Linked DNA regions of Homo sapiens: region 1 is linked to region 2. The links come from fine-mapping of genetic effects on gene expression. A gene starts in region 2. The other region holds a variant in brackets. All regions are shown on one strand. Distances are between the middles of the regions. Region 1 overlaps WDR62 (WD repeat domain 62). Region 2 holds the start of CLIP3 (CAP-Gly domain containing linker protein 3).

The links. PIP is the estimated chance that this variant, and not a neighbour inherited with it, causes the effect.
Region 1: its variant is fine-mapped to the expression of CLIP3 in whole blood (INTERVAL, PIP above 0.99).

The regions. Positions count from the first base shown.
Region 1 is chr19:36,101,598-36,116,331 of GRCh38, forward strand. WDR62 (WD repeat domain 62) reads left to right here. Exons shown (of 32, transcript NM_001083961.2): 25 at 67-177; 26 at 417-554; 27 at 1,140-1,254; 28 at 1,351-1,477; 29 at 1,559-1,610; 30 at 1,746-2,384; 31 at 2,921-3,078; 32 at 3,171-3,511. The coding sequence ends at 3,431. It overlaps OVOL3 (ovo like zinc finger 3), which reads left to right and starts at 9,546. Exons shown (of 4, transcript NM_001302757.2): 1 at 9,546-9,699; 2 at 9,772-9,836; 3 at 11,163-11,367; 4 at 11,856-12,114. The coding sequence starts at 9,606. The coding sequence ends at 12,064. POLR2I (RNA polymerase II subunit I) reads right to left here and starts at 13,278. Exons shown (of 6, transcript NM_006233.5): 1 at 13,201-13,278; 2 at 13,062-13,116; 3 at 12,742-12,815; 4 at 12,580-12,654; 5 at 12,418-12,469; 6 at 12,112-12,220. The coding sequence starts at 13,259. The coding sequence ends at 12,158. TBCB (tubulin folding cofactor B) reads left to right here and starts at 13,871. Exons shown (of 6, transcript NM_001281.3): 1 at 13,871-14,077; 2 at 14,444-14,587. The coding sequence starts at 13,964. RefSeq lists enhancers at 9,145-9,775, 9,776-10,405, 12,262-12,773, 12,792-12,921, 14,512-14,601 and a silencer at 14,112-14,201. The variant T/G (reference allele first, on the strand shown) is at 3,584.
Region 2 is chr19:36,025,557-36,040,861 of GRCh38, forward strand. CLIP3 (CAP-Gly domain containing linker protein 3) reads right to left here and starts at 7,317. Exons shown (of 14, transcript NM_015526.3): 1 at 7,168-7,317; 2 at 6,636-6,859; 3 at 1,576-1,715; 4 at 1,396-1,489; 5 at 1,030-1,191; 6 at 591-709. The coding sequence starts at 6,801. It overlaps THAP8 (THAP domain containing 8), which reads right to left. Exons shown (of 4, transcript NM_152658.3): 2 at 14,388-14,580; 3 at 13,767-14,162; 4 at 9,428-10,036. The coding sequence ends at 9,884. All of the region lies in intron 3 of LOC101927572 (a long non-coding RNA gene), which reads left to right. RefSeq lists a silencer at 10,043-10,216.

The DNA.
Region 1 (14,734 bases), 76 kb after region 2:
TAGCCCTGGCCCTGGCTCACCAGAATGGTCAGGCTGTGGGCTCCTGACCCCGACTCTGTCCTTCAGACTCGGGGGAGTCAGAGGCCGACCTGGAGTGCAGCTTCGCAGCCATCCACTCCCCAGCTCCGCCTCCTGACCCTGCCCCTCGGTTTGCCACGTCGCTGCCCCATTTCCCAGGTAAGCAGGGGCCAGACACGCAGGGGACTCGCTGCTCGGGCCTGGCTTAGGGCCAGTCACAATGTCTAAGCACAGGCCCTGCACTTGGAGCCCACTGAGCCTGGAAGACGGGGATCCCTGCTTCTCAGCCTGCGGGCAACAGGGCAGGGATGGGTGGGGCCCGCTTTCTCCATTTCAGGTGGCGTCTGCTGTGACTCATGGTGTTGGCTCCTCTTGTCCCTCCCCTCCTTCCCTGTCAGGATGCGCAGGTCCCACAGAAGATGAGCTGTCCCTGCCCGAGGGACCCAGCGTCCCCAGCAGCTCCCTACCCCAGACTCCGGAGCAGGAGAAGTTCCTCCGCCACCACTTTGAGACACTGACTGAGTCCCCCTGCAGAGGTAGGGCCCTGCCTCACCCACACCTGCCGAGGCCGTCTGTGCAGCCTGGGCACAGCATTGGCGTCCCTGGAGTTGGCTCCCCAGCAGGGCCAGGAGGGTGAGTGGAGAGCAACTGCTTCGTTTTTTTTGAGACGGAGTCTCGCTCTGTTGCCAGGCTGGAGTGCGGTGGCCCAATCTTGGCTCACTGCAACCTCCGACTCCCTGGTTCAAGCAATTCTCCTGCCTCAGCCTCCTGAGTAGCTGGGATTATAGGCATCCACAACCACGCCCTGCTAATTTTTTGTATTTTTAGTAGAGATGAGGTTTCACCATGTTGGCCAGACTGGTCTCAAACTCCTGCCTCAGATGATCTGCCCGCCTTGGCCTCCCAAAGTGCTGGGATTACAGGCGTGAGCCACCGTGCCCGGCCCACTGCTTCACTCTTGACCTGAGCCTCACGATGCCTCCTCACCCACTGCCCCTGCTCGTACCCTGTGTCTGTACATAAGGGTTTCTGGGGAGTGCCCCGCTGGGCTGTGGGCTGGCCTAGGGCCAGGGCTGCTCGGCGGGAAGGGTTATGAGGGTCCCCTCGGGATCTTCCCCTAGAGCTCTTCCCCGCAGCTCTGGGAGACGTGGAGGCCTCTGAAGCTGAAGACCACTTCTTCAACCCACGCCTGAGTATCTCCACGCAGTTCCTCTCAAGCCTCCAGAAGGCATCCAGGTAGAAGCTGGCCAAGCACTGCCCACCCTCTGGCTCCTCAACAGTGCCCCAGGGCAGGCTGAATGAGAATCATCCCCCCTGCTCTCCTCCCCACAGGTTCACCCATACCTTCCCTCCCCGGGCAACCCAGTGCCTTGTGAAGTCTCCAGAGGTCAAGCTCATGGACCGAGGCGGAAGCCAGCCCAGAGCAGGTACTGGCTACGCCTCCCCAGACAGGACCCACGTGAGTATTGGGCCCACCTCCGTCAGGGCACGGGGCTGGGAACCCTGAGGCCTTGTCCTCACCTCAGAGCTGTGCCTGCAGGTCCTCGCTGCAGGGAAGGCTGAAGAGACCCTGGAGGCCTGGCGCCCACCACGTGAGTGCCCCAGTCCCAGACGGACAGTCCTGGGTTTCTCGGCGAGTGGCCGGATGTCCAGCCTAGCTGTGGGGCGTGGGGGCCCTAGCCATCAGTTCTGTGTGGTGGAGTCAGTGCCATCTGCTTCCGTTACAGCTCCCTGCCTTACGAGCCTGGCGTCCTGTGTCCCTGCTTCCTCCGTGCTGCCCACAGACAGGAATCTCCCAACGCCCACATCTGCACCCACCCCAGGCCTGGCTCAGGGTGTCCATGCCCCCTCCACCTGTTCCTACATGGAGGCCACTGCCAGCTCCCGTGCCAGGATATCACGCAGCATCTCCCTCGGTGACAGTGAGGGCCCTATCGTGGCCACACTGGCCCAGCCCCTCCGTAGGCCATCGTCCGTTGGGGAGCTGGCCTCCTTGGGCCAGGAGCTTCAGGCCATCACCACCGCGACAACACCCAGTTTGGACAGTGAGGGCCAAGAGCCTGCCCTGCGTTCCTGGGGCAACCACGAGGCCCGGGCCAACCTGAGACTGACCCTGTCAAGTGCCTGTGATGGGCTCCTGCAGCCCCCCGTGGATACCCAGCCTGGCGTCACCGTCCCTGCAGTGAGCTTCCCAGCCCCTAGCCCTGTGGAAGAGAGCGCCCTGAGGCTCCACGGCTCTGCCTTTCGCCCAAGTCTCCCAGCTCCTGAGTCCCCTGGCCTTCCTGCCCACCCCAGTAACCCCCAGCTTCCAGAGGCCCGGCCTGGCATCCCTGGCGGCACTGCCTCCCTCCTGGAGCCCACCTCCGGTGAGTACAGCCCTGGAGCAAGGACTGTCCCCTAAGCTCATCCTGTGTGCTAGTTGGCTCAGCTCCAAAGATGGATACTTGACCTGGCCACAGGGACTGTGCCATTCATTCATTCGTGCATTAACTTAAATATTTAATGAGCATTACATGTTGGGCTTTGTGCTAAACCCTGGGACATGGGACATGGTGGTAAACAACACAGAGAACTGACAGCTTCAATGGGGACAATGCCCAGACTAAACCTTTAAGGAACCCGTCATATGTATCACGAAGTGACACATGCTTAGGAGGGACAGAGGAGGGCGAGGGAGTGCAGGGTGGGGACAGGGGTTGGGATTACAAACCAGAAGATAAGAAGAGGCTTCAGGGAGGAGGCTGCATTGGAGCAGAGACCTGTAGGAGTGAAGGGGAGGGAGCCTTGGGGACCCAGAGAAGTGTTCCAGACAGAAGTACAGCATGGAGTCCACCCAGTCGCTCTGGCCGCTCACACCAATGGAATGCAGCTCATCTTGCTCATTCCCTTCTCTCTACCCCAGGTGCACTTGGTCTGTTACAGGGCAGCCCTGCCCGCTGGAGTGAGCCCTGGGTGCCGGTTGAAGCCCTGCCCCCATCTCCCCTTGAGCTGAGCAGGGTGGGGAACATCTTGCACAGGCTGCAGACCACCTTCCAAGAAGCCCTCGACCTTTACCGTGTGGTGAGCTAAGCCCCAGAGTTGGGAAAGGGTTGAGGGGTCTCTTGAGACCGCCCGGCCTTGGTGGCCCCTGACAAGGCTGGCATCCCTTGCAGTTGGTCTCCAGTGGCCAGGTGGACACCGGGCAGCAGCAGGCACGGACTGAGCTGGTCTCCACCTTCCTGTGGATCCACAGCCAGCTGGAGGCTGAATGCCTGGTGGGGACTAGTGTGGCCCCAGCCCAGGCTCTGCCCAGCCCAGGACCCCCGTCCCCACCGACGCTGTACCCCCTGGCCAGCCCAGACCTGCAGGCCCTGCTGGAACACTACTCGGAGCTGCTGGTGCAGGCCGTGCGGAGGAAGGCACGGGGGCACTGAGGGCGCAGCCCCTCCACCGCAGCCCTGCTGCTTCTGAGGACTTAGGTATTTTAAGCGAATAAACTGACAGCTTTGAGGAATGGTTCCTGGTGTCTGTTTGGGCCTATCCACAAAGCCCTCTTCAAGTGGAAGTGGGGAGGGAGGGTAGAAGG[T/G]GATGCCCAGAGGACTCGTGTCTGTCAGTGGAGAGCATGGGACCAGCGCTCCCAAGAAGTTCAGGAACTGCAGCCATGACCTCAGGGCCAGTCCTCCCACACTGCCCACAGAGCTGCCACAGACCAGTGTGAGGTGCTTACCCAGTGGGGCCCATTTGTGCCCCAGGGAGGAGCCAGACCCTCTTACCTGCCCCCTGCCAGTGCCTGAGAACTCACTGGGGCTGCTGTGATCACCATGTGCCTACCTTGCCCAGCAGTCCACGCTTTGCCATATCATGGCTCAGGGCCTCTGGGCCAAGGCCACACTAGATCCCACAAAGTCCACGGTGGTGGTGTCCCCATCTGCAACAGGGGAAACTGAGGACCCATGAACAGGCTTGCCCAAGCTGGGTATGGTGGCCTGCACCTATAATCCCGGCTACTCAGGAGGCTGAGGTGGGAGGATCGCTTGAGGCCAGGAGTTTGAGACCAGCCTGGGCAACTTGGTGAAACCCCATCTCTTTATTTCATGTATTTATTTATTTATTTTTGTTTTTGAGATGGAATCTTGCTGTGTCATCCAGGCTAGAGTGCAGTGGTGCGATCTTGGCTCACTGCAACCTCCGCCTCCCGGGTTCAAGCGATTCTCCTGCCTCAGCCTCCCGAGTAGCTGGGATTACAGGCACCCACCACCATACTCAGCTGATTTTTGTATTTTTAGTAGAGACGGGGTTTTGCCATGTTGGCCAGGCTGGTCTCAAACTCCTGACCTTGGGAGATCCGCCCACCTCGGCCTCCCAAAGTGCTGGGATTACAGGCATGAGCCACCGCACCTGGCCAAAACCCCGTCTCTTTAAATAAAACAAAATAAAACAAGAAACCCAGGCAGGCTTGCCCACTGTATGATCCTGGCAGCAGGCCCAGGCCACGAGCAGCTGGGACCAATAACTGCTTCCCCTTCAGAAGTTCTACATTCCACGAGCTCCCAGCACTGCTACCAGCTCCCCCAGACAGCAGGCATCTGGCCACATGGGGTGTCTGCTAAAAAAGCCACTCTTGGCTGGGGTGTGGTGGTGCACACCTGTAGTCCCAGCTACTCAGGAGGTTGAGGCAGGAGAATCGCTCAAACCCAGGAGGCAGAGGTTTCAGTGAGCTGAGATCACACCATCATTGTACTTCAGCCTGGGTGACACAGCAAGTCTCAAAAAAAAAAAAAAAAAAAATCCTGCCAGTTCCCACCCAGGTGCCGGGCACTGTAGCAGAAGGAACATCAGGCAACGCACCTGCCCTCATGGCCACTCACCTTCTATACAGTCAAACAGATGCAGGAATTAGAGCTCTGTATAATTCTAGATAGGTTGGGGAGATCCATTGCTGGTGAAGGGTCAGGGAAGGCCTTTCGAGGTGACATTTGGGCTGAAGCTTGATAGAGGACATCTCAGGAACACATCCAGGCCGACAGCACAGCCAGTGCACAGGCCTGGGGCAGCCACACGTGATCTGTGTGGAAGCAAGAGGAGCGAAGCCCGGACGGCTGGAATGGAGTGAGCAAGGGGAGGGCAGGAGCTGAGGTGCAAGGAGGAGCAGGGCCTTGTTGCTTCATAACATTTAAGTCCAAGGAATATCCAGAACAGTTTTTTGTTTTTGGGTTTGTTTCTAAATCTCTGCTCTTAATGTTTGGGGGATATCCAGTGTTGCTTATTTCTCACGACTCTGCCTCAGGGAGTCCAGGTGGTCCAGAACTTGAACCACCTGCCTAGGCCTAGGCCCATCTGCCTAGTTCGGCCACCATTGCCCAAAACCTTGCCCAACATCCCTGGGCAAAGCTTGGTGTTCAGCCCCCCAGGCCTCGGACACCCAGGAGACCACCTTGGGCCTCTGTCATGCATGGAATTACCCTTCCTTCCAACCTGTATCATAGTAAAGTCTTCTGCTCCAAGGAGTAAACACCTGGCTTTCAGGGCCCAAGATGGAGGGACGTTGGTTACCCTTGATGTCATCATGCACCTGGCCTCTTCCTCTCCTGCTCTGTTATCCTCTGTGAGCAAGCTTCAGTCTCCAGCTTATGGCCTCATGGTTGCAACACGGCTGCTGTGGCACCCAGCAGCACACCCTCAGGTGGTGTCTCCATTTTGCAATTGTTGGCTTTCCTGCAGCCCTGACTGAAGTGCCTGGCATAAGCCTGGAAGCGCAGGAGCTAGAAGCTGCCCCGATAGTACTGCTATGGGGAGGCTGAGGTTAGATGTGGAGTGCAGGGGGCTCACAGAGGGTGACAGCAGGAGAGGAAGAGGCCAGGTGCACAATGACATGAGGGTCAGAGGCCCAAGTTATTGGTCCCAGCTGCTGGGTGGCCTGGTCCAACCAGGAGCAAAGGCACAGAGCAGGGCACCCTCTAGGGCAGCAGAAAAGATGCAGATCTCTCCCAGGGGTCTCCCTGGGAGACTCATCTGGGGTCAGATGAGTCCCAGGCAACAGGAATGGAGATTGCTTTGATGTGCTTGGACCATCTCTCCTGTCCTGGGCATGTTGCAGCTCAAACAAAGAGGTTCTCTCAATAAGAAAGGCAAGTGGGCTGGTAATCAGAGAGGATCCAGCATGTCTGCCACTTCCCTCTTCCAAATGCCAGGCTCTGTCCTGGAAGGACCATACTTTCTCCATACTTCTTAACCAGGATAAACCACCTGGTTAAGAAGCCACTGCTGGTGGTGCAGCATGTGTGCATGTGGTTTGTGAGCTGACAGGGTCCCAGCAGAAAGATGACAGCATGCTTAGATGGGATATTCCAAAGAGTTTAACCAAGGGATCATTTGCAAAGGAGCAGCAGGGACTGGGAAACCACCGAGGCTGGTGCAGAACCCCAGGACTGGCACCCTGGGAGCTGTTACCACCCCCAGGCCACAAGGCACAAAGAGAAGGAACAAGAACCCAAAAGAGCAAATCCCAGGGAGAGGGTAGTGCTGAGGGAGCTGCAGCCCTGACTCCCACACAGGACGGAGTGAGAATCAACACCCTGACCTTACTCCCCTCCTGCAGGGCACCCCATTGTCCAAATCCTACTGGAAGCCAGAGTGCATAGAAGCCCAGGTGACCCCGCCTCCAGTCAACCTCCTAGGCCATGGAGCAGGGCAGAACAGGACTGAGAGGGTTCCTGGGGAACTGGGTCCCTGGAAGGAAAACAGTTCATCTTTCACTGCAACTCCCCCCCTGCTTCTACCCCCACATCTACCCTTGGCCTCCCCATAGCAGTACCATCAGGACAGCTCCTGGGTCCTGAGCTGCCAGGCCCGTGCCAGGCATCCCAGTCAGGGCTGCAGGAAAGCCAACAATTGCAAAATGGAGACACCACCTGAAACCCCATTTTGCAGATGACCCACCTGAGGCCTGGATGTTTGCCCAGAGGAGGGATTCCTCGGCAGGATGCAGTGGCTCATTCCTGTAATCCCAACACTTTGGGAGGCCAAGGCAGGCAGACGGTTTGAGCTCAGGAGTTCAAAACCAGCCCTAGGCAACATAGCAAGACTCCACCTCTACAAAAAATTTTAAAATTAGCTAGGTGTGGTGGTGCACGCCTGTAGTCCCAGCTACTTGGGAGGTTGATGTGGGAGGATCACTTGAGCCCAGGAGCTTGAGGCTACAGTGAGCTGTGTTCACTCCACTGCACTCCAGCCTAGGTGACAAAGCAAGGCCCTGTCTCAAAAAAAAAAAAAAAAAAAAACCTTCCTAACCAATCCCTGCTTATATGTCTGCCACATGCCAGGCCCCATGCTAAGCATTCTCTCCATGTGAGCTACATGGATCTTCAATACAAACTGGGAAGAGGGAGATTCCTTAGTCTCATTTTCCAGGTGAAGAAACCGAGGCCCAATGAGAAATGACTTGCTCTGGGTCCTGCAGAGAGCAAGCGGAAATGCATGGCCAGCAGACCCTCAGCACTGCCACCCTTGCTTCCCCAAATGAATTGGCACAACTGACTCTCGGGCAATGTAAAGAAATGAAGAAATACTCCTCTCACCAGCAAGCCTTGTACAGATGTCCCCCTCTGACTAGAACACCCTCCCCTTTCATCTGAAACCTTTCAGCGCTTATCCAGGAAGCCATCCCTGTACCCGTAGCCTGGATCAGGAGCCTGTTCGGGTCCCCAGGTACCCCTCTTTTCCCCATCATGGCTGGGTCTCTGCCTCACTTGCCTCTCACTGTCTTGGTCATTCTGGGCTGTCACTGGTGTGCCTCCTTCATGGACTTACGCGATCATTTTCAGTAAGCTAGGTCTGGAGCTTAGAAAATTGTTTAGTTGCCAGGCGCAATGGCTCACGCCTGTAATCCCAGCACTTTGGGAGGTTGAGGCAGGTGGATCACTCGAGGTCAGGAGTTTGAGACCAGCCTGCCCAACATGGTGAAACCCTATCTCTACTAAAAATACAAAAATTAGCCGGGTGTGGTGGTGCGCACCTGTAGTCCCAGCTACTTGGGGGACTGAGGCAGCAGAATCGCTTGAACCCAGGAGACGGAGGCTGCAGTGTGTGGAGATCGTACCACTGCACTCCAGCCTGGGCAACAGAGTGAGAATCTGTCTCAAAAAACAAAACAAAACAAAACAAAAAAAATAAAAACAGGTTGGGCGCGGTGGCTCACGCCTGTAATCCCAGCACTTTGGGAGGCTGAGCCGGGCGGATCACCTGCATTTAGGAGTTTGAGACCAGCCTGGCCAACATGGTGAAACCCCATCTCTACAAAAAACACAAAAAATCAGCTGGGTGCAGTGGTGTGCCCCTGTAATCCCAGCTACTTGGAAGGCTGAGGCAGGAGACTCACTTGAACCCAGGAGGCGGAGGTCATAGAGGAGCCAAGATCACGCCATTGCACTCCAGCCTGGGCAACGAGCAAAACTCCGCCTCAAAAAAAAAAAATTAAAAAACAGAGCTTGGATTGCTTCTTAGTCTTCTGGCTAAGAATCAAGTGTAAAACAGCTTGGCCAGTGTGCCGGGGTAGGGTCCTGGGAGCCCCTGGCTGTGTCAAGAGACCCCCTTTGGGCCAGGTGCGGTGGCTCATGCCTGTAATCCCAGCACTTTGGGAGGCCAAGGCAGGCGGATCACTTGACGTCAGGAGTTCAAGACTAGCCTGGCCAACATGGTGAAACTCTGTCTCTACCAAAAATACAAAAATTAGCCCGGTGTGGTGGTGCATGCCTGTAGTCCCAGCTACTCAGGAGGCTGAGGCAGGAGAATCGTTTGAACCCGGGAGGTGGAGGTTCCAGTGAGCCAAGATGGTGCCACTGCACTCCAGCCTGGGCAACAAGAGTGAAACTCCGTCTCAAAAAAAGAAAAAAAAATAGGAGACCCCCTTTTACTTTCCAGACTGTGGGAGGGAGGAAGAGTGTTGTCCCAGGCAGTAACTAGGGGCTAGATTATTAACAAACTAGTATTTTAGTGCCTGCTACACCTGAACAGTGCTTCTGGCTGAATGTTAGCCCTGGGAATCTGAAGATCAGAGAGGTGGGGCATCCTACCTGAGGATGCACAGCCTGGATCCTCATTTTGCCCTGATTTATCCAGATCTGCTGTCCTCCCTGCACCCTACAGAGCAGGGCAATCACAGCAGGGGGCCCCTTCAGTGTCCTCAGACAGCTGCTGTGATTTGAATAACCAGGCAGGCTGCTGGATGTCCCCTGGTGACTGATTTGCCTGGCAAACAGACCCTCAACCCCTGGGAGACAGTCCCCCTGGGGCCTTGTTTCTTCTTCCTATCCTCAAAAGCTCCCCAGGCCCATCTCCCCTTGCCTGGCTCTGCTTGGTGGTCCTAGTGCTTGTCCACCCCTGGAGGCTGGATGGTTCCCTCCAAAACCTGGGAGAAGATGGGCAGGTCCCCAGGCAGGGGTAACCTGAGCCAGCTTAGTCCACTCCCAGGGCCAGCCAGGAAATTTGCATGAAGAGAATGAGGTTCCTCAGAGGCTTCCCCTCCTTTCCCACCAGGGATAGTCATCCTGGGGCTGAGGTCTGACAGCAGGTGGAAGCAGCCCCTGTGTGTGGAGAGCCTTCCGGAGGGCATGCCCCGCGCCTTCCTGGTCAGGAGTCGGCGTCCACAGCCCCCCAACTGGGGCCATCTGCCTGACCAGCTCCGGGGAGATGCCTATATCCCAGGTGGGCCCCTCACTGTGCCTGGAGGTAAGGGGCAGGAGAGACGCAGTGTCACCATCTGGCTTTTCTCCTCAGACTGCAGCAGCCTGGGGGGGCCACCGGCACAACAGTCGTCCAGTGTCAGGGATCCGTGGACAGCGGTGAGTGTGTAACTGGCTAGCAAAGCCAGCTGTTTCGCTCCTGCCTGCTCTCAGCCTTAATGAAGCTGACAGCCCCTTGCTCCCCCGACCCATCTGCACACGCCCTCCAGCCTCGGGACCTGTCCGCCCCTACTTCTCTGTGTTGGGAATGCCTCTCCTTTCCTAGTAGTGAGCTCTCTACTGTTAGGTCTCACCCCAGGCACCAGGGCCGGCAGCCACAGGGATCTCTTCCAGCGGGGCACAAGATTCATCCCCACATGTGGATGATCCGCTTTATGTCAGAACATGGGACAAGGCAACAGGAGTGCGATGGGAGATAAGGGCTTTTTCAGCTGTGCATGCATTGGAGGAAGGAAAGCGCCAGCCGGAATGTAATATATTCATGAAAGCAAGGCACTGTTCTAGGCATGGGCTGTTATATTCAGCGGGAATAAGACAAAAATCCACAATTTTATGGAGCTTATATTCTGGTTGGGGCTGCATGTATAGACAATAAAATTAGTCAGCCTGTAATTCCAGCACTTTGGGAGGCCGAGGCGGGTGAATCACTTGAGGTCATGAGTTCGAGACCAGGCTGGCCAACATGTTGAAACCTTGTCTCTACTAAAATTACAAACATTAGCCAGACATGGTGGCACGTGCCTGTAATCCCAGCTCCTCAGGAGGCTGAGGCAGGAGAATCAGTTGAACCTAGGAGGCAGGGCAGAGGATGCAGTGAGCCGAGTCTGCGCCACTGCACTCCAGCCTGGGAAACAGATCTAGACTCCATCCCCCCTCAAAAAAAACAATAAAATTAGAAAAATAGACCGGGCATAGTGGCTCATGCCTGTAATCCCAGCACTTTGTGAGGCCAAGGTGGGTGGATTGCTTGAGGTCAGGAATTCAAGACCAGCCTGGCCAACATGGTGAAACCCCATCTCTACAAAAAATAAAAAAATTAACTGGGCATGTGGCGCATGCCTACAATCGTGTAATCGTGGGGAGGCTGAGGCACTAGAATCGCTTGAACCCGGGAGGCGGAGGTTGCAGTGACCTGACATCATACCACTTCACTCCTGCCTGGGCGACAGAGCAAGACTCTGTCTTTAAAAAAAAAAAATGTGTATGTCACATCAGAAGATGGGACTTGGCATAGAGAAAGTAAGGACCATGGGATAGTGAGGGAAGGCCCTGGAGAGTGACAGGCACACACACTAATCACTGTCTCCCACCTGCCTTCCTAATCCTCCGTGGTGGCTCAGGACACTCTGTAAATACTCATTTGCAGAGTAACAAAGGGTGGATGGGGTCCAGCCAGAGAGGCTAATAACTCCTGCATCCCTCCAGCAGCCCACACAGGGCAACCTGACCTCTGCTCCCAGGGGCCCTGGGACGCTGGGCTGCCCGCTCTGCCCTAAGGCCTTCCCTCTGCAGCGCATGCTGACAAGGCACCTCAAGTGCCACAGCCCCGTGCGCCGCCACCTGTGCCGCTGTTGTGGCAAGGGCTTTCATGACGCCTTCGATCTCAAGCGCCACATGAGGACTCACACTGGTGAGCAGTGGCAGGGACAGGGAAAAGTTGCTGGGCCCCAGGTGGGGATGGAAGGAAATGGAGAGAGGTGCTGGGCTGTGGAGTGTCCATGGTTTGTGTATGTGGGGTATGGAGAATCAAGACATGATGTCTCTCGGACCCCAGTGGGTGGGTGTAAGGTGGCACCAAAATAGGGGCCTGTCACGGAATGCAGAGTGCAGACGGATGCCGGTTATACGATTCAGGCTCCAGATCGAAAGGCAAGGGAAGGCCTCCCTCTCCATCCCCCAGGGGAGGGAGCATCCTGGTGAGGGAGAGTGGAGACACAGGTGTCTGGCCCATGTCTGCACTGGGTGACGGTAGCAGATGGTGGGTCATGGGCGGAAGAGTCTGAAGAGCTTGGAATAGGTACCAGAAATGCTCAACACTGGAAAGCAGGGTGGGGGCGCTTTAGTCCAGAGCCCATTGCCCTCTCTGTCCAGCCCTCCCCTCTGCGCCCATCTGTGCAGGGATCCGGCCCTTCCGCTGCAGTGCTTGCGGGAAAGCGTTTACGCAGCGCTGCTCCCTGGAAGCTCACCTTGCTAAGGTGCATGGACAGCCGGCCAGCTACGCTTACCGTGAGCGCCGCGAGAAGCTGCACGTGTGCGAGGACTGCGGCTTCACCAGCTCCCGGCCCGACACCTACGCACAGCACCGCGCCCTGCACCGCGCAGCCTGATACGGTGTGCCAGCGTCCTCCCCACGAGGCAAATAAACACAGAAAACTCACGCATGGAATCTGGTGTTTATTACACTCGGGGGAGAGAGGAGGTCACTCGGTCCAGCGGTGGCCGCAGTGTGGGGCTGTGCACACGTAGTAAAGGCGCATGGCGTCCTGGCAGAAATGATGCATGGTTAGGAAGGATTTGGACCCAGCAGCGCCTTACCCCAAAAGAACAGGCAAGAGAACTTCACCAATAGGTAAGGGCCCGGCAGAGTTCCAAGAAGCGCAGGGTCACCCACATTGATATCCCCGCCCCCAGAAAGGACCAAACAAGCCCCAGATACTTAGAAAGCCCTCGCGCCACTTACCTCGGCCCGCGCACTGTGTGACTGGAAGAACACAGCCTCCTTGTGGCCGCACCTGAGAGGGTAGGGGCTCGGTCACCGGAGGCTTCACACCCTTCCCTCCTCCCTTCGCCCAGTGAGGAGACGAGCCTCACTTTACCTCCCCAGTACCAGCTGAACGCTCACTTTTGGCACGGGTGGTCCTCGGTCCGCGGCAACGTGGGGTCCTGGGACACGTCGGCGATAATCTGGGTCAGTTCGCTGCAGGGACGCGGGGGTGCAAAATTACGCTCAGACCCAGCCTCCAGAGCCAACACCCCCGCCCCCAGCTCAGGGCCCGCCACTCACTCCACTTCGTGCGTGATCTTGTTGACATAGATGCAGCTGTTGTCGGCCTCCTGCTGGTAATCACAGTTCCGGCACTACGAGAGGGCGAGTGTGGGGGAAAGGGGGTCACGGAAGGATTCCAGACAAGATTGGGAGGAGAGGGCAGGGTGATCCCGGAGGATATGACGACAGGACTCTCTTTGGGGATGGGCAGGACATGAGAGTCAGGATCACTTGAGGTGCAGCGGAGGGCGAACAGGGAGTCCGATCACAGAGGCAGGGGGCAGGGCGGGGCCACGCTGGGAACAGGTGGACCTGCCGGGGAAGACCCCGGCGCTCACCGCGTAGAGCAGAATGCGGTTCTCCTTGTCTTCCTTGGGGTACAGCATGTTGTTACTGTGGGGAGGGGGAGGTGCCAGGGGTTAGTTCTGGAGCCATTCCTCGCCCGCCTTCTAACATCACCCGCTCCCTCCGCCTCACCATTCCTGGCAGAAGCGAATACCCACGAAGCCCGGCTCGTAAGTCCCGTCGGGCTCCATGGCGACGCGCAGCCCGCGCAGCCCTCCCAGCCTTCCGCGCTTGCTCCGCCGCGCTACAGGTCGCGGGAGGGGCCAGGCCTAGGTGCTTCGCCAAAAGAGGGCGGAGCTGCGCACACGTGCTGGCTCCCCGCCGCCTCGGGCTCGGCTCTCTCCGCGCAGAGGTTTCATGGCTTGCTTCAATCTTTTGATATCTTAGAGTAATTGCTTCCAATTTTTGGGCATCGCCGCCTCAGTTTACAGAATAGTATGGATCTGGTGCCAGAGCCGGGAAAACGATGCGCATCGTAAACCGCAAAACACTGAGCATCCAGGACAGAAGCCAAGGCGCTTGGCTTGGTTGAAGGCCAGTGCGCATGCGCGAGTTTACCCTTCGCGGACTGGGCGAGCTCTTGCCACTCCTACCTCCGGGCTTCAGTCTTCGCCGCCTGTTCTGGTCCTTTCCCGGGCCGCTATTGGAAGAACCGTGAACTATGGAAGGCCCCTCTGGATTGGCTGGGCTGGCCCAAGAGTAAGGAGAGCCCTCTTCCTGGCGGTGGGGAAGGGACGGCGGCGATTGGCGGACGCTCCTGGCAGGAGAGCGCGGATTGGTCAGGCACGGAGCAGGAGGCGGGGCTGATAGCCCAGCAGCAGCAGCGGCGGCGGCGGCTGCGGAGCGGGTGTGAGGCGGCTGGACCGCGCTGCAGGCATCCGCAGGGCGCGGCAAGATGGAGGTGACGGGGGTGTCGGCACCCACGGTGACCGTTTTCATCAGCAGCTCCCTCAACACCTTCCGCTCCGAGAAGCGATACAGCCGCAGCCTCACCATCGCTGAGTTCAAGGTGTGGCCATGGGGGCGGGGTCCGGAGGGGCGGGGCGAAGAAATTGGGGGGTTCCCGGAAGGGGGAGGCTGGGAGGGGCCGGGGAGTGACTGGGCGGGCCCGGAGGTGATCCCAGGCTGCGGAGGCTGGGGACCCGGTCGCGGCGGGGCGGGTCCGGAGAGAACTCGAGAGTGCAGAGATGAGGGCCGGGTCCAGCGAAAAATCCGACGGTCCAGAGGGCGGGGGCAAGAGGCGAGGGGCTGGATTGCGGCCCCGTGCGTCCTGACTGGGGGGTCTTTTGGAGGAAAAGGGACGTGGCGATGGTCATTGATGCAAGGGGCGGGGCCTCCGTGGCCTCCTTCTTCTCACCCTGCCTCCTCCTCACAGTGTAAACTGGAGTTGCTGGTGGGCAGCCCTGCTTCCTGCATGGAACTGGAGCTGTATGGAGTTGACGACAAGTTCTACAGCAAGCTGGATCAAGAGGATGCGCTCCTGGGCTCCTACCCTGTAGATGACGGCTGCCGCATCCACGTGAGGACTCTCTATCTGGGACACTCCCCCACCCCACCTTTCATTTGGTTATTCAACAGACACTTGCTGGGCTTTGCCCTCAGTCATACCCGAGATAGGTCCTGCCTTCGTGGAGCCTCCAGTGCAGCCTGACGAGAGACAGACCCA
Region 2 (15,305 bases):
CTCCAGCCTGGATGACAGAGCCAGTCTCTGTCTCAAAAAAAAAAAAAAAAAATTAGAGAGAGTGAGAGTGGGCTCCTGTGGTATAGAGTCAGGAGTCAAACTCTGGGCCAGTGGAAAATGGGGAGAGGCAGGGTCTCAGGGGCACAGGCCATGTTACCCCAACATACATGTGCCTGGACGGCTGCAGGGTAATTAGCATTGTGGATGGAGCCTGGTAATGCATAGGTCAGAGGTCAAAGATCATATTGAGGGCTTAGGAGAGGACCAACCCTCTCATTCACAGAAGGCCTAGCCCAACTTTCCTCATGACCTTGAAATGCTGTTATGCACTGCCATGGGATAGGCTGGATGACCCTGGGCAGATCCCTTAATCTCTGCCTCAGTTTCCCCATTGTAAAACAAGGCTTATAATAGACTTCACCTGACATGTAATGAACACTAGGCATATTTCAGCTGTTATTGCATTTGCTGAATGTACAGACGGCATTTGTAGTATTTGGGGAGTCACGGGAAACGCAGAGACCTGCTGGAGGGAAGTGGGGGAGGAAGGGAGCAGGAGGGTAACGGGTTCTGGGCAAGGGTGGCAGTACCCTCAGCGCAGGGTTGGCGCCGTGCTCCAGCAAACATTTGGCGGCGCCCAGGCACAGGCTGGAAGCAGCGATGTGCAGGGCTGAGCCGTGGTTGAAGTCACTGCACGTGGAGTTCACCACTGGAAGTGGGCAAGAGGAGGGGTTCCGGGTGAGCGCCTGTGGGACCCCAGCCCTCCTCCCACCTCGGGGCTCATCTCTTAACTTGCAGGTCCCAGAGCCTCCGACGCAGAGCCCCGCCCCCACCTCGGAGCCCCCCTCTCCCTTGGCAGCCCCGACCCTCCCTAGAGTGGTAGTCCCTGAGCCCCCTCTCCCACGCCTCCAACCTCCCGCTATCTCCTCAGATCACCGTCCTCCTTCCCCTCGCAGCCTGGCCTCACCTGGGTCTCCGCGTCCCTCACCCAGGTCCTTGCCCCCTCCCAGCCAGGGCTCTCCTCCTCACCTCGCGGCCTCGCACCCTTCAGCAGCACACGCACGAGGTCGGGCACATCAAAATAGGCCGCGTAGTGAAGCGCGTTCATGTTGGTCCAGCGGCTGCGCAGCGTCACATCTGCGCCCAGCGCCAGCAGCTGCTGCGAGAGGCGCACGGCTGCCGCGGGGTCCCCTGCGCGATAGGCCGGGTCAGCTTGGAACCCCCATTCCAGAGCATGGGCCCAGTGCACGGGGAGGACCCTGGGCTTCAGGGACTATACTTTGGGATCCGAAGCTTCGGGTTCCAGATGGGGCCTGAGTTCTGGGTGGTTTTCAGCGTGTTGGGTCTGGGGGCCTAGGCTTTGGGGCTTATGACTTGGGGGTAGGGGGCCCTCACCGACTCCGTGGGCCCCAGCTTTGCACGCATAGTGGAGCAGTGTCATGTCGGTCAGCCCGTCACGATCGTTCACATGGCAGCCTCGGCGCAGAATCTGTGAGTACCAGGGGAGCAGGGAGGGTCACCCACACATGTGGGGAACCGCATCCCCTCTCCCCCTGGTTTCCCCAGTGTTCTCACCTCATTGCCGATGACGTCTATCTTGTGCTGGACTTGGGGCACCCACTGGCGCACAATGGCAAACAGCTCGGGGATGGTGGTCTGAGGGTCAAACAGGATCTCCTGGCACGCCGGGTCATTGGGATCGAAGAAGGTGAAAGCTGGGGTGGCAAGAGGTCCAAGGTCACCCCACGCAACTGACCCCCTCCTTCCAGCCTCAGTAGGGGAGCTGTAGGTCTTTGCCTTTTAGAGCCTCTAATGCAGGGTCTCAAGCTGGTGGCACATGGGCCACAGTCAACCCACAGGCATTTTCTGTGTGGCCAGCATGAGGTTTCAAACTCAGGTGGGTTCACATAAAAATCTCGATGCCCAGTGTGTCTTGAAAAGTTGGAAGATCAGGCAATTCCCATATAGCAGCAAACTCCACCCCCTGAAACAAAAGCCTGACAGAGAGTGCAGTACCTTGGAGTCTGCATGTCCAGGGGGACTGCTACTGACCTCACCCACTGTTGCCCTGTGAGAGTATGAGTGAAGTTTGGCTGAATCTCCAGAGCAAAAATAAATAAAGCCAGAAGTCCTGGTTTTTAATAAAACTCTCTCAATTGTTTCAAATACCATGCAGTCCACATCAAATGTATCCATGACTGGGCACAGTGGTTCACATCTGTAATCCCAATGCGTTGGGAGGCTGAGGCAGGAGGATTGCTTGAGCCCATAAGTTCAAGACCAGCCTGGGCAACATAGCAAGACCCCTGTCTTTACAAAAAGTTTTAAAATTAGCCAGGTGTGGTGGTGCGCATTGGTGCTACTCAAGGAGATTGAGACAGGAGGATTGCTTGAGCCCAGGAGTTCAAGGCTGCAGTGAGCCATGATTGTGCCACTACACGCCAGCCTGGGCAACAGAGCAAGACCCTGACTCTGGAAATATAAAAAATAAAAATAGAGGCTGTGCGCGGTGGCTCACGCCTGTAATCCCAGCACTTTTGGAGGCCGGGGCGGGCGGATCACCTCAGGTCAGGAGTTCGAGACCAGCCTGGTCCAACGTGGTGAAACCCTGACTCTACCAAAAATACAAAAATTAGCCAGGCGTGGTGGTGGGCGCCGGTAATCCCAGCTGCTCGGGAGGCTGAGGCAGGAGAATCACTTGAACTCAGGAGGCAAAGGCTGCAGTGAGCTGAGATGGCGCCGCTGCACTCCAGCCTGGGTGACAGAGAGTGAGACTCCATCTCAAAAAAAGTAAATAAATAAATAAAAATGAAAATAAAATAAAATGTATCCATGAGCAGGAATCAACCTGTGCCCAGCCAGGGTGGTGCCTAGAGGCACTTCTGTCTCTTCCCACTCGACTCTAAGGAGTACTGCTCTCTGTGACGTCAGCACCCAGCACAGGGCCCTGGCACGTGGCAGGAACTCAGTGCGTGGTGAATGAACGACTACATGAATGATCAGATTATACACAGCCCAGGGAAGTGCCACATAGAAGGTGTCTCCAGGAATCAGCCGGCATGCTCCTTTTAGAACTGCAGTCACATCATAGCCCTTCTTGGCTTAGAACCCTCCTCCAGCTCCCAACCCATCCAGAGTACAGACCAAAGTCTTCCCCACGGCCCTCAGGGCTCTGCACATCCAGCCCCTCAGTTCTCAGCCCTCTCCCCTCACTTATTCCCCTTCCCTCATTTCCCACACTGGGCTCCCTCTGTCCCTCCCACGTGCCAAGCAAATTCTTGTCTCAGGGTCTTGGCACTTGCTGTTCTTCTCACTCAGGATAGACTTCCCACACATCTTCACAAAGCTTTATAAATCTTTGCTCAAATGTCATCTCCTCAGAGAGGCCTTCCCAAACCACACTGTCTAAATCGGCACCCGCCCTTCTCCATCTCCTACTCTTTTTTTTTTTTTTTTTTTTTTTTTTTTTAGAGATAGGGTCTTGGCTGGGCATGGTGGCTCACGCCTGGAATCCCAGCACTTTGGGAGGCCAAGGCTGGCAGATCATGAGGTCAGCAGTTCGAGACCAGCCTGACCAACATGGTGAAACTCCATCTCTACTAAAAATACAAAAATTAACTGGGCGTGGTGGTGAGTGCCTGTAATCCCAGCTACTCAGGAGGCTGAGGCAGGAGAATCGCTTGAACTCGGAAGGCAGAGGTTGCAGTGGGCCAAGATTGCACCATTGCACTCCAGCCTGGAGTCCGTCTCAAAAAAAAAAAAAAAAATAGGGTCTGTTGGAATGCAATAGTATGATCATAGCTCACTACAGCCTTGAACTCCTGGGTTCAAGTGATCCTCCTGCTTCAGCCTCCCTGGTAGCTAGGACTACAGTATACATCACCATGCCCAGCAATTTTTTTTTTTTTTGTAGTGACAACGTTTTGCTATGTTGCCCAGGCTGGTCTCGAACTCCTGGGCTCAAGTGATCCTCCCACTTTGGCTTCCCAAAGCACTGAAATTACAGGTGTGAGCCACCATGCCCAGCCCTTTATTTATTTATTTATTTTTATCATAGCTCATATCACTACTTGACATGTTTACTCCTCTTTCTCCCTCCTTCATTTCCTCTCTTCTTCCCTCACTAGGATCTAAATGCTATGATTCTATTCTGCCTCATTCACTCCTTTATCCCCAAGGCCAGGCACAGCACATGGCACACAGTAGGTGCTCAGTCAATCTCTGTTGAATTAATGTACAAATTTAACAGATACATGATTTCCTCTTGGAGTCCACCTTAGCCTTCTCCCTGTCCTCGACCACATTTCCAGATTTCTTCACATTCTGGGACAAAACCTCTCCCGCTCTACAAGCAAGACTGCTTGGAGGGCTCAGCCTATACCCTCCGACCTCCCACTGAGTCAGAGGCCCCAGCCACCTCCAGCTGCATTTCCAAAGGAGATTTTCCAGTTTTCTGAGGTACAGCACCCCCCCGACCTCAGGCCCCAGATAACTTCCTTTTACTTTTTTCTTTTTTTGAGACAGGGTCTCACTGTGTCACCCAAGCTGGAGTGCAGTGGTGCAATCCTAGCTTACTGCAGCATCGAATTCTCAGGCTCAAGTGATCCTCCCACCTCAGCCTCTGGAGTAGCTGGGACTACAGGTACCCACCATGCCTGGCTAATTTCTAAATTTTCTGTACAGATGGGGTCTTGCTCCATTGCCCAGGCTGATCTCGAACTCCTGGCCTCAAGCAATCCTCCCACCTTGGCCTCCTAGAGTGCTAGGATTATAAGCCAGAACCACTGTGCCTAGCCAACTTTCTTATTTTTCTATTAGACTGAAGTCAACTTGTAGTCTCCCTGATCTACCTCTAGTGGGTGACATGTCCATGGATGCCATCTGTCTTGCTCTATCCTGGCAACGCTGACTCTCTGAACCTGGTTTCTGAACCTCACAGCTGCCGGGGATTCCCAGCCTGCATATCTTCCAAATTCCCCTCCTACATCCAACTCTGGCTGCACTCCATCCCCTTCTACCCAGTACCCAGAGGGAGCTTTCAAACTACAAATCAGACCTGCCACTCCTCTGCTCTTAAACACCCTCCCCTTGCCACTCTTCTCCCCTGTCCCACTTAGAATATAACCAAAGTCCTCACTGTAGCCTTGAAGGCCCTTCCAGATCTGGCCTATGCCAACCTCTCACCTCAACCTCGATCATTCCCTGAATGCAGCTCCAGGATCTTTCTGTTCCAAGTTCAATTCTGCCTCAGGGCCTTTGCACTTGCTGCTGTCTGCCTGGAACACTCTTTTTCCAGCTCTCTTATGGCTGATTCCTCCCCATGCTCTGGGTCCCAAACTAAATGTTACCTACTCAGAAAGAGCAGCCCTGACTACCCCTGCAGGTAGCTGCCCCCTAGTCATTATCGTATCTCCACCTTTAATTTCTTTTTCTTTTTTCTTTTTTTCTTTTCTTTTTTTTTTTTTTCTTTTTTTTTTTTTTTTTTGAGACAGTCTTACTCTGTCACTCAGGCTGGAGTGTAGTGGCTCGATCTTGGGCAACCTCTGCCTCCCAGGTTCAAGCGATTCTACTGCCTCAGCCTCCCGAGTGGCTGGGATTACAGACATATGCCACTATACCCAGCCAATTTTTGTATTTTTAGTAGAGATGGGGTTTCACCATGTTGGCCATGGCTGGTCTCAAACTCCTGACCTCAGGTGATCCGCTGGCCTCAGCCTCCCAAAGTGCTGGGATTACAGGCGTGAGACACCATGCCCAGCCCACCTTTTCTTTCTTTCATAGCACTTGCTCCAATCTGAATTTATCTGATTTCTGATTTATTTATCTGTTCACTTGTTTAGTCTCTCCTTCTCTCCTGCAAGGGAGGATCATGCCTGGATCACTTAGGATTAAATCTCCGGCACCCAGCATAAGGCTTGTCACAGAGTAGCAGCACTCGATAAATATCGCTCGGTCAATGATTAGACACTTTCAGTTTCTCCAAGAGGCCGCCCTCTCAGCTCCATACCCTCCTACCTCAGATCCTTTACCCAGCGGTTACCTCTCCTGGGAGCCCTTTCCCCTGACCCTTCTCTTAGTTAACCCCAACTCACCCTCCAGTCTTCTCAACTGTAACCTCCTCAGGGAAACAATGTCTTAAAAAACTCTTGCAGCAGCTTGTTTATGGTAAATACAATTTTCATAATGTCTTGTAATTACATATTTATATTACATTATATTTTTCTTTCTTGCATATAAACCTAAATGTGAAAAATTACATTATGGTTTAATACCTATTTGTGTGGCTGTTACTGAGGCCTGTGAGTTGTCTCAGGGCAAAGACTGGGTCTCTCTTGCCCCCTGCTGTGGCCCCAGCCCCTAGCATAAAGCCAGGTCCACAGCCGCTTTCAAAAAATGATTGTTGAATGACTAAATGATGGAATGATGTGTCATGAGTCAAAGACTAGGAGTATTACAATTCCATTCTCCAATGGGTGAATGAATGAATTAACGAGGGGTGCTCTGCAGCCAAGATTCCTCTGGACCACCTTCAAATTCCCCAGAATTCTCCCACCATCACCACCAGCAGAGCACAGCCCACCCTCCCCGGCCACCCAACGCTCCAGGCCAGATTCCAGGGTGGGGACAGTGGTTACCGTAGTCCTTAGGGAGGGGGGCAGGTGCCGAGGGGTGCACAACAGGCTTCTGCCGGCGCTCCTGGGTGGGGCTGGGGGCCTCGGGGACGGGTTCATCCTCCTCCTCCTCTTCTTCCTCCTCTCCTCGGGGTGGCGGGGCCATCGGGGCAGGATCTGTCTTAGTCATGGTCCTCGGTGGCCCTCGGGGGGCGGGTGCAGAGTTGGGGGCAGCCTTCAGGCAAATCCTGGAGGCAGAGGTCAGCTGGAGAGGGTGCCCGGCAGGCTCCAGGGTCCAAGCCCCTAGGAGCTTCCAGGGCCCCGGGTGGCCTCCGCGCAACTGGATCTTGGGCAACCATAGGGACCCCCGTTACCCATAGAGGGCCCCGGTGTGTGCGCCCAGCGCCTGCCACCTCCCCCAGGCCCAGCCCCCCATTCTTCTCCTCCCGCGTCAGGCCCCTCAGTCGCGGCTGCCCCCTCCCCGGGTTTGTTTATCTCGGGATTCAGGATGCTTCGCCCCTCCCCTTCTCCGCGGGCCGCCCCCTCCCCATCTTACCTCGGGCAGACAGCGCTGGGGACCAAAGTGGAGACTGGGGAGACTGTGGGAGCAATGGGGTGTCGGTGTCAGGGGACGTGATGGGGGAGGCAAGGGAGACAGAGAGAAGGGGACGAGGCCCAGACGCCGACAGGGGGTGGGGGCGGAGAGGGAGGGGCGCGACTGCGCATGCGCCTGCTGCCCCCCTACCGGCGGCGGGGGAGGAGGGACCAGGAGGAGGGACCGGGAGGCGCTCGCATTGATGGAGGGGCCAGAGGCGGCGACTGAAAGGGGAGAGCCTCCGGGCACTGGGAGAGGAAGAGATGGCTACGGAAAGGAGCGAGATGAGCAGATACAACGGCAAAAGAGAGGGCTGAGAGAGCGGACACAGATCTTCTCCATCCCCTTCCCCCACGCCTGCAAACCAGGCCGGTGAGGGCAGTGGTCTTGGGGCGTGGTGACGATGGGGACCCTCTAGGGGACCCTCTCTCTAGGACCCTAGACCGGACCCCTTCTCCAAGCTCACCATTCATAATGGGTGCCTCAGAGGGGTGATTTCCTAGAGACTCCTATCATGATCATCTCATCCTTACCATCATAATGCGAGGCTCACACACTGGGGCCCAGAGGTTAAGCAGCTTGCCCAAAAGTACATGAGTAGGTGATGGAGCGAACATTTGAAACCAGACAGTCTGTAAAGTCTGATTTTTATTTTTATTATTTCCTAGACAGGGTCTCACTCTGTCACCCAGGCTACTGTGCAGTGTTGTGATCTTGGCTCACTGCAGCGTCAAACTTCTGGGCTCAAGCCATCCTCCCACCTCAACCTCCCGAGTAGCCGAGACCACACGTGCATGCCACCATGTCTGGAGAATTTTTTTTGAGACAGGGTTTTGCCATGTTGCCCAGGCTGGTCTTGAACTCCTGACCTCAAGGGATCCTCCTGCCCCTGCCACCCAAAGCGCTGAGATTACAGGCACGAGTCACCATGCCCAGCTTTGATTCTTAATCACCATGCTACATGCCTGTAGCAGTGTCTGGGAAACAGATCTGCCGATTGACCCCTCCAACTCTCTCAGAACCTGTATCTTCCCCACGGAGGCCTCCTGAAGCCAGCCCAGGGTCCTGGCTCCATTGTCATGGCTTGGCTTCCCACCTGGAGCTGTAGCCTGCTCTGCCTCAAATCATCCCAGCCTGGATGGGGCTGGGTGACAGCCTTGAACACCTCATCCTTCTAATGCACAGGTCCAGTAGCTCCATCTCCAAAAGATTTCCAGGATCTCACTCTCCCCACCGCTACCCTGGGCCCTCATCTTGGTCCATCCTTCTTCTTCTGCCACCAGCACTACGGCAGCAGCCTCTTACCTGCTGTCCCCGTCCTCCTCCAACATGCAGCCACAGGGACCCATGAACACCTGTCACTTTGGAGCCCTCTTTCCCTCAGAGGGGTCTGCCTGCTGCACCTCACTCCAGGTAGAAGCCAAGGCTCTCAGCCATGGCCCACAAGGGCCTATGTGAACCTGCCCCATCATCTCTGCACTCACCTCCTCTCACCCTCTTTTGTTCACTCCACCCCAGCCACACTGGCCTCCTTGCTTCTCCCTACCCCAGGACCTTTGCACTGGCTCTTTTTTTTTTTTTTTTTTGAGATGGCAGTCTCACTGTTCCCCAGGCTGGAGTGGAGTGGCATGATCTCTGCTCACTGCAACCTCTGTCTTCCAGGTTCAAGTGATTCTCCTGCCTCAGCCTCCCGAGTAGCTGGGATTACAGGCCTGTGCCACCACACCCAGCTAATTTTTGTATTTTTAGTAGGGACGGGGTTTCGCCATGTTGGCCAGGCTGGTCTCAAACTCCTGACCTTAGGTTATCTGCCTGCCTCAGCTTCCCAAAGTGCTGGGACGACAGGCGTGAGCCACCGTGCCTGGCCTGCAACGGCTCTTTGTGATGCCCGGAATGCTCTTCCTCCAAATCCCTACGTGGCTCCCTCTCTGCCCTGTTTTAGGATCTTACTTGTTGGTGTCTTTTCACCTTCTCTGCTCTAAAACTGCACCCCTTCCTCCCTTCCCTACTATGGTTTTCTCCATAGCAACACCGCCTCCCAGACCTGACACATCCCAGACAGCAGGCCCTCACTGCAGGGGTTGTTCGTCCTCTGGAACCTGAGCCTGTAGCGCTCCAGGCCAGCCCCTTCTGATCACCCAGGTTTCTGCTAAAACATGGCCTTGGAGGGCCCTCCCCCAGGCCCAAACCAAATTTTTGTTGTCTTTATAGCACTCATCGCTCATGTCTGCAGTGTTCTTGTTTATTTGTTTACTAGTTCATCGTCTACTCAAGTAGAATGAGCACCATGAGGGCAGGGATTTTCTCAGCTGTGTCCACCATGGTATCATGAACTCAGTACCAGGCTTGGCAAAAAGCGTGGGACTCCTTAGAACCAGGTATGATTCTCCCAAACAACCCTTGCTCTGCTCTGAGGCTGTCGTACTGATTTGCAAAGATCTGAGCCGGGGGTGGCAGAAGCCTGGTACCCAGGGGATTGGGGGCTGATGAGAGACTTGGGCCCAGGTCACCCCTAAGGTTCAAGAGATCCCTAGGAGTGGGGTGGTAGAACCCAGGCCCTTGAGGGAGGCACTGCTACTACCCAGGCGTGGGCGGTGGGGCTGGGCCAAGCCCACGTATAATGTCTTTCCTCCTCCATCTTCTATCTTTTGTCCCTCGACATTGTCTGTCTTGATCCTTATGCACTGGGGATCCGAGTGTCCAGGAGCTCCGGCTTGGCATCCACTGTGGCAGGTGCAGGGTCCTGGGCAAGGACCATGGCTATGTCAGGCCCTCCACAGATGATGGTGAAGGTTTGGGATTCCTCAGGTCCAAGGGTCTGGGCTGTTGTCTAAGGCAAAGAAGTGGTAGAGATGGGGAACATTACGAAGCAAGTTGCGGGAGAGACAGACAGATAACGGTGAGGAACAGGGAGGCAAAGGTGGCAGGAGGGCGTGTCAGGAAACAGAGAGAGATGTGGGGAGAGATATGAGGAGACAGGAAAGCAGATGTGAGGGCCAGAGAGACATTCATGGGAAAGGAAAGAAGGGTGGGGAAATGGGAAGAGAAGTGCGGGGGCACAGACGCAGACACGTGGGGGAAAGAGATGTGCAGGCAGACAGACGTACAGACAGGGTCAGAGATATGGGGGAGACAGAAAATATGCAGATAAAGAGAGACACAGGGAGGTGGGGAAACAGGTGGCGGACAGAGATGATGGGCAGAAAGACAATGAATGTTGGGGAGGGAGGAGATTGGGAGGTAGGGATAGATGAGTAGGAGACAGAGATTGAATGACAGGAGGGGAGGCAGAGAGAGGCAGTCAGCTCAGGGGATCTGGCAGGCTCCACAAAGAGCCCCAGGCCCGAGTCTGAGCTCTGTCCCTGCCCCACTGTCCCTCTGTGCCCCAGGCCACAGTCTCAAACTTCAAGGCCCCAGAGGCAGCCACACTGTAGCTCCAGCCAACTGCTATCACCTGAGAATCCAAGCCCAGTGCTGCTAGATATGCAGAGCCTTCAGGAAAGACCAGACTTTTTTTTTTTTTTTTTTTTTGAGACAGAGTCTCACAGTGTCACCCAGGCTGGAGTGCAGTAGCACAATCACAGTTCATTAAAGCCTTGACCTTCTGGACTCAAGCAATACTCCCACTTCAGCCTCTCAAATAGCTAGAACTATAGGTGCAACACTTGGCTAATTTTTTGTGTTTCTTGTAGAGACAGGGTTTCACCATGTTGCCCAGTCTGGTCTCAAACTCCTGGGCTCAAGTCATCTACCTGCTTCAGCCTCCCAAAGTGCTGGGATTACAGGTGTGAGCCACTGCACTCGGCCATTATAAATTATTTTAAAGCACTGCGGAGGCCAAACAAATTGTATCTGTGGGTCATGTCCAAACCACTGACTATCAATCTGAGACTCCTGGCTGGGCATGGTGGCTCATACCTGTAATCCCAGCACTATAGGAGGCCGAGGTGGGCTGATTACCTGAGGTCAGGAGCTCAAGACCAGCCTGGCCAACATGGCAAAACCCCGTCTCTACTACAAACACAAAACTTAGCTGGGCATGGTGGCACGTGCCTGTAATCCCAGCTACTTGGGAGGCTGAGACAGGAGAATCGCTTGAACCAGAGAGGCAGAGGTTGCAGTGAGCTGAGATCGCACCACTCCACTCCAGCCTGGGCAACAGAGCAAGACTCCTTCTCAAAAAAAAAAAAAAAAAAAATCGGATACTCCTTAACTCCAGAGGTACTGTGGGGGCTCCTTCCTGAGCCCCTTCAGTGAGTCTAGCATTCAGAGCTCTGTGTGGGCATCTCTCTCATACAAGCAGGGCTCTGAAAGCCATGGGGGCTAAGCTGGGCACCTCAAGCTTGGCCCTAGGGTTTTAAGACAGGAGAAATTTCGCCTTGGTCAAACTGTGATTTTCAGAGACATAACACCATTCCTCATCTTCCTCCCCCGCCACCCCACACACAGAGACATAACACCCTTCCTCAACTTCCTCCCCTACACACACACACACACACACACACACACACACACACCTTCCTCAGCTTCCTCCCCTACACACACACACACACACAAACACCTTCCTCAAATTCCTCCCCTACACACACACACACACACACACACACACACACACACACCCAGCAGTAAAATATAGAGGCAAAAGGGATTCAGATAGGGCCTGGGGGACACTATTACAGAGATTGCAAACTCCAGCTCTATAGGGGCCAGGCAGGAAGCTCTCACAGGCCTCTTCTGCAGCCAGACACCTGGGTTTGAATCCTGGCCCTGAAACATGTTGGCTGCCTGACTGTGGGCACACTACTGGACTGCTCTGTGCCTCCATTTTTTCATCTGGAAGATAGAGACAACAGCAGTATTAAGATTATAATGAGGTTTTTTTTGTTTGTTTTTTGAGATGGAGTGTTGCTCTTGTCGCCTACGCTGGAGTGCAATGGCACAATCTCGGCTCACTGCAACCTCTGCTTCCCAGGTTCAAGCAATTTTCCTCCCTCAGCCTCCCGAGTAGCTGGGATTACAGACGTGTGCCACCACGTCCGGCTACTTTTTGTATGTTTAGTAGAGATGGAGTTTCACCATGTTGGCCAGGCTGGTCTCGAACTCCTGACCTCGTGATCTGCCCACCTCAGCCTCCCAAAGTGCTGAGGTTATAGGCATGAGCCACCACACCCGGCCTTTTTTTGTTTTTGTTTTTGTTTTTGAGATGGCGTCTCGCTCTGTTGCCCAGGCTTGAGTGCAGTGGTGCCATCTCGGCTTACTGCAACCTCCACCTCCAGGGTTCAAGCAATTCTCACACCTTAGCCTCCCAAGTAGCTGGGATTACAGGTGCGCCACCATGCCCAACTAATTTTTGTATTTTTAGTAGAGACAGGGTTTCTCTATGTTACCCAGGCTGGTTTCAAACTCCCGAACTCAAGCAATCTGCCTGCCTTGGTCTCCCAAAGTGCTGGGATTACGGGCATGAGCCACCGCACACAGACCATAGTGAGTTTTTTGTTTGGTTGTGGTTTTTGGTTTTTTTTGAGACCTTGCTTGGTCACCCGGGCTAGAGTGCAGTGGTGCGATCTTGGCTCACTGCAGTCTCTGCTTCCTGGGCTCAAGGGATCTTCCTGCCTCAGGCTCCCAAGTAGCTGGGACCACATGTGCCCACCACAATGCTAATTTTTGTGTTTTAGTGAGACAGTCTTACCATGTTGTCCAGGCTGGTCTTGAACTCCTAGGTTCAAGCGATCTGCCCACCTTGGCCTCCCAAAGTGCTAGGATTACAGATGTGAGCCACTGCATTTTTTAAAAATTAACCTTGTAGCAGTCAGGCATGGTGGCTCACTCCTGTAATACCAGCATTTTGGGACGCCAAGGCAGGTGGATCACGAGGTGAGGAGATCGAGACCATCCTGGCTAACACGGTGAAACCCTGTCTGTACTAAAAATACAAAAAATTAGCTGAGCGTGGTGGCGGGCACCTGTAGTCCCAGCTACTTGGGAGGCTGAGGCAGGACAATCGCTTGAACCTGGGAGGCAGAGGCTGCAGTGAGCCGAGATTGCACTACTGCACTCCAGCCTGGGCAACAGAGCGAGACTCCGTCTCAAAAAAAAAAAAAAAAATTAACCCTGTAGCTCCAGCTCAAAGGGTCATAGTGAGTTTTCAGCTCACTATGTTATAACTCTGTGTCTGGCAGACAATAAGAGCTTCTCAAATATTAAGTATTTAGTATTAGTAAATGGAGCAATCATTACTCAGCTCCAACCAATAGTTGCTTGGCATTGCCAGATTTTGTTTTTCAGGAAAACCTAGAAATTTGTTTTAATTTTCTGTAGAGACAGTGCTTGCTATGTTGCCCAGGCTGGTCTCGAACTCCTGGCCTCCAGCAATCCTCCTGCCTTGGCCTCCCAAAGTGTTGGGATTACAGGCGTGAGCCACTGAGCCCGGGAAAGCCAGAAATTTGGAAACACGGCTGAATGTTCTGATTTTTGAATAGGGGATCCTAGACAAAATGAAAACACACTGCAGGCCAGGCCACCACCCATGGATGGGGCTGCCAGGCTGGGGTGCCACTCACCAGGCGCTGCAGACCCCGGCGTGCCCGTGCCAGCAGGCTCTCCCCGTGTAGCTGCTGTGCCAGCCGTTCCAGGGCCTGCAGCTGCGCCTGGTGCCGCTCCTGGCACCGTTGCAGCCTCCGCACCCGGCGTTGCAGTGCTCCCAGCACTGGGCCCAGCCCGGTCTGGGCCTGTTGGGCAGGGACTTCAGGTTGTGACCGCTCAGGAGTTGGCGCAGGGGCCAGGGGGGTCAGGAGCATGGTGGCCACAGTCTTGGGGCTCCCCGATGTGGGGCCCAGCACCACTAGGCGCACTGGGCCAGAGACTGGGATGGCAGGGCTCTGGGGCAGGGGTGTATTCTTCTGTAGGGGAGGCGGCGGCGAGACTGGCTTCTGGGTGCTTCGGGTCCTCCGCTGACTCTGGAAGACAAGGCATGGGGTGCAGGGGTGCCGTGGTCAGACTTCGACTCAGGAGGAAAGGGATGGAGGGTCTGTTTCCAAGGGGGACTTGCCTAGGTAAGGCCAGACCTCAGGGAGGAAGTGTCGTCAGGAGGGGAGGGCCAAAGTTCAGACTCAAGGAGGGACTTCCCTTAGGCAGGGAGGTCTGGGGGTTGGATTCCAGCAGCAGGACCTCCCAGCGCTCACCTTGGCAGGTGGTCCCCGGGAGAAGATGGAGGGCACTGCATCAGGCCGCAGGTAGCGCACACCCCAGCGCCACTGGAAGCAGGAGGGTGTGAAGTGCTCGCTGCACAAGTGCTGGTGGCAGCTGGGCACCCAGTGCTCACAGCCCATGTGCTGCAGCCAGGCCTGCAGCCGGGGACCATCCTTCAGTGGGAACCTGCATGGGTGGTTGGGGGGCTGGGTCAGTGCTACGAGGTTCAGACTTATCCCTCCCAGAGGATACCCACCCTGGAGGTCTCTGGGCTCCAAGCCTGTGCCTCCCTAGGGCTAGGAAGTAGACCTGTCTTGTGCCCAGGCTTTCTCTATCTCATACACACAACCACAACCCTTTTTTCAGCTTCATCTTTTAGTAGTAGTATTTTGTGAGACGGGGTTTCGCACTTGTCACCCAGGCTGGAGTGCAATGGCGCGATCTTGGCTCACTACAACCTCCGCCTCCTGGGTTCAAACGATTCTTCTGCTTCAGCCTCCTGAGTAGCTGGGACTACAGGCGCACGCCACCACGCCCGGCTAATTTTTGTATTTTTAGTAGAGACGAGGTTGCACCATGTTGGCCAGGCTGGTCTTGAACTCCTGACCTCAGGTGATCCACCCACCTTGGCCTCCCAAAGTGCTAGGATTATAGGCATGAGCCACCAAGCCTGGCATTTCTTCTTATTATTATTAATTTGAAAGCTCCACCTTTTAAACACCCAGCATCAGCCCACCTCTGCCCCCTCCACTGCCCCTCCTTCCAGCCTCCTTCCTGGTCTTCCTGCCCACAGTCCCGCCCCTCCACTCCCAATTTGTTCTTCCACATCAACTTGTTGGAGCAGTTTATAAAATCAGACAGTTACGATGTGGGAGATCGTGCAGCCAAGCGAAAACGTTTCTTCCACACCA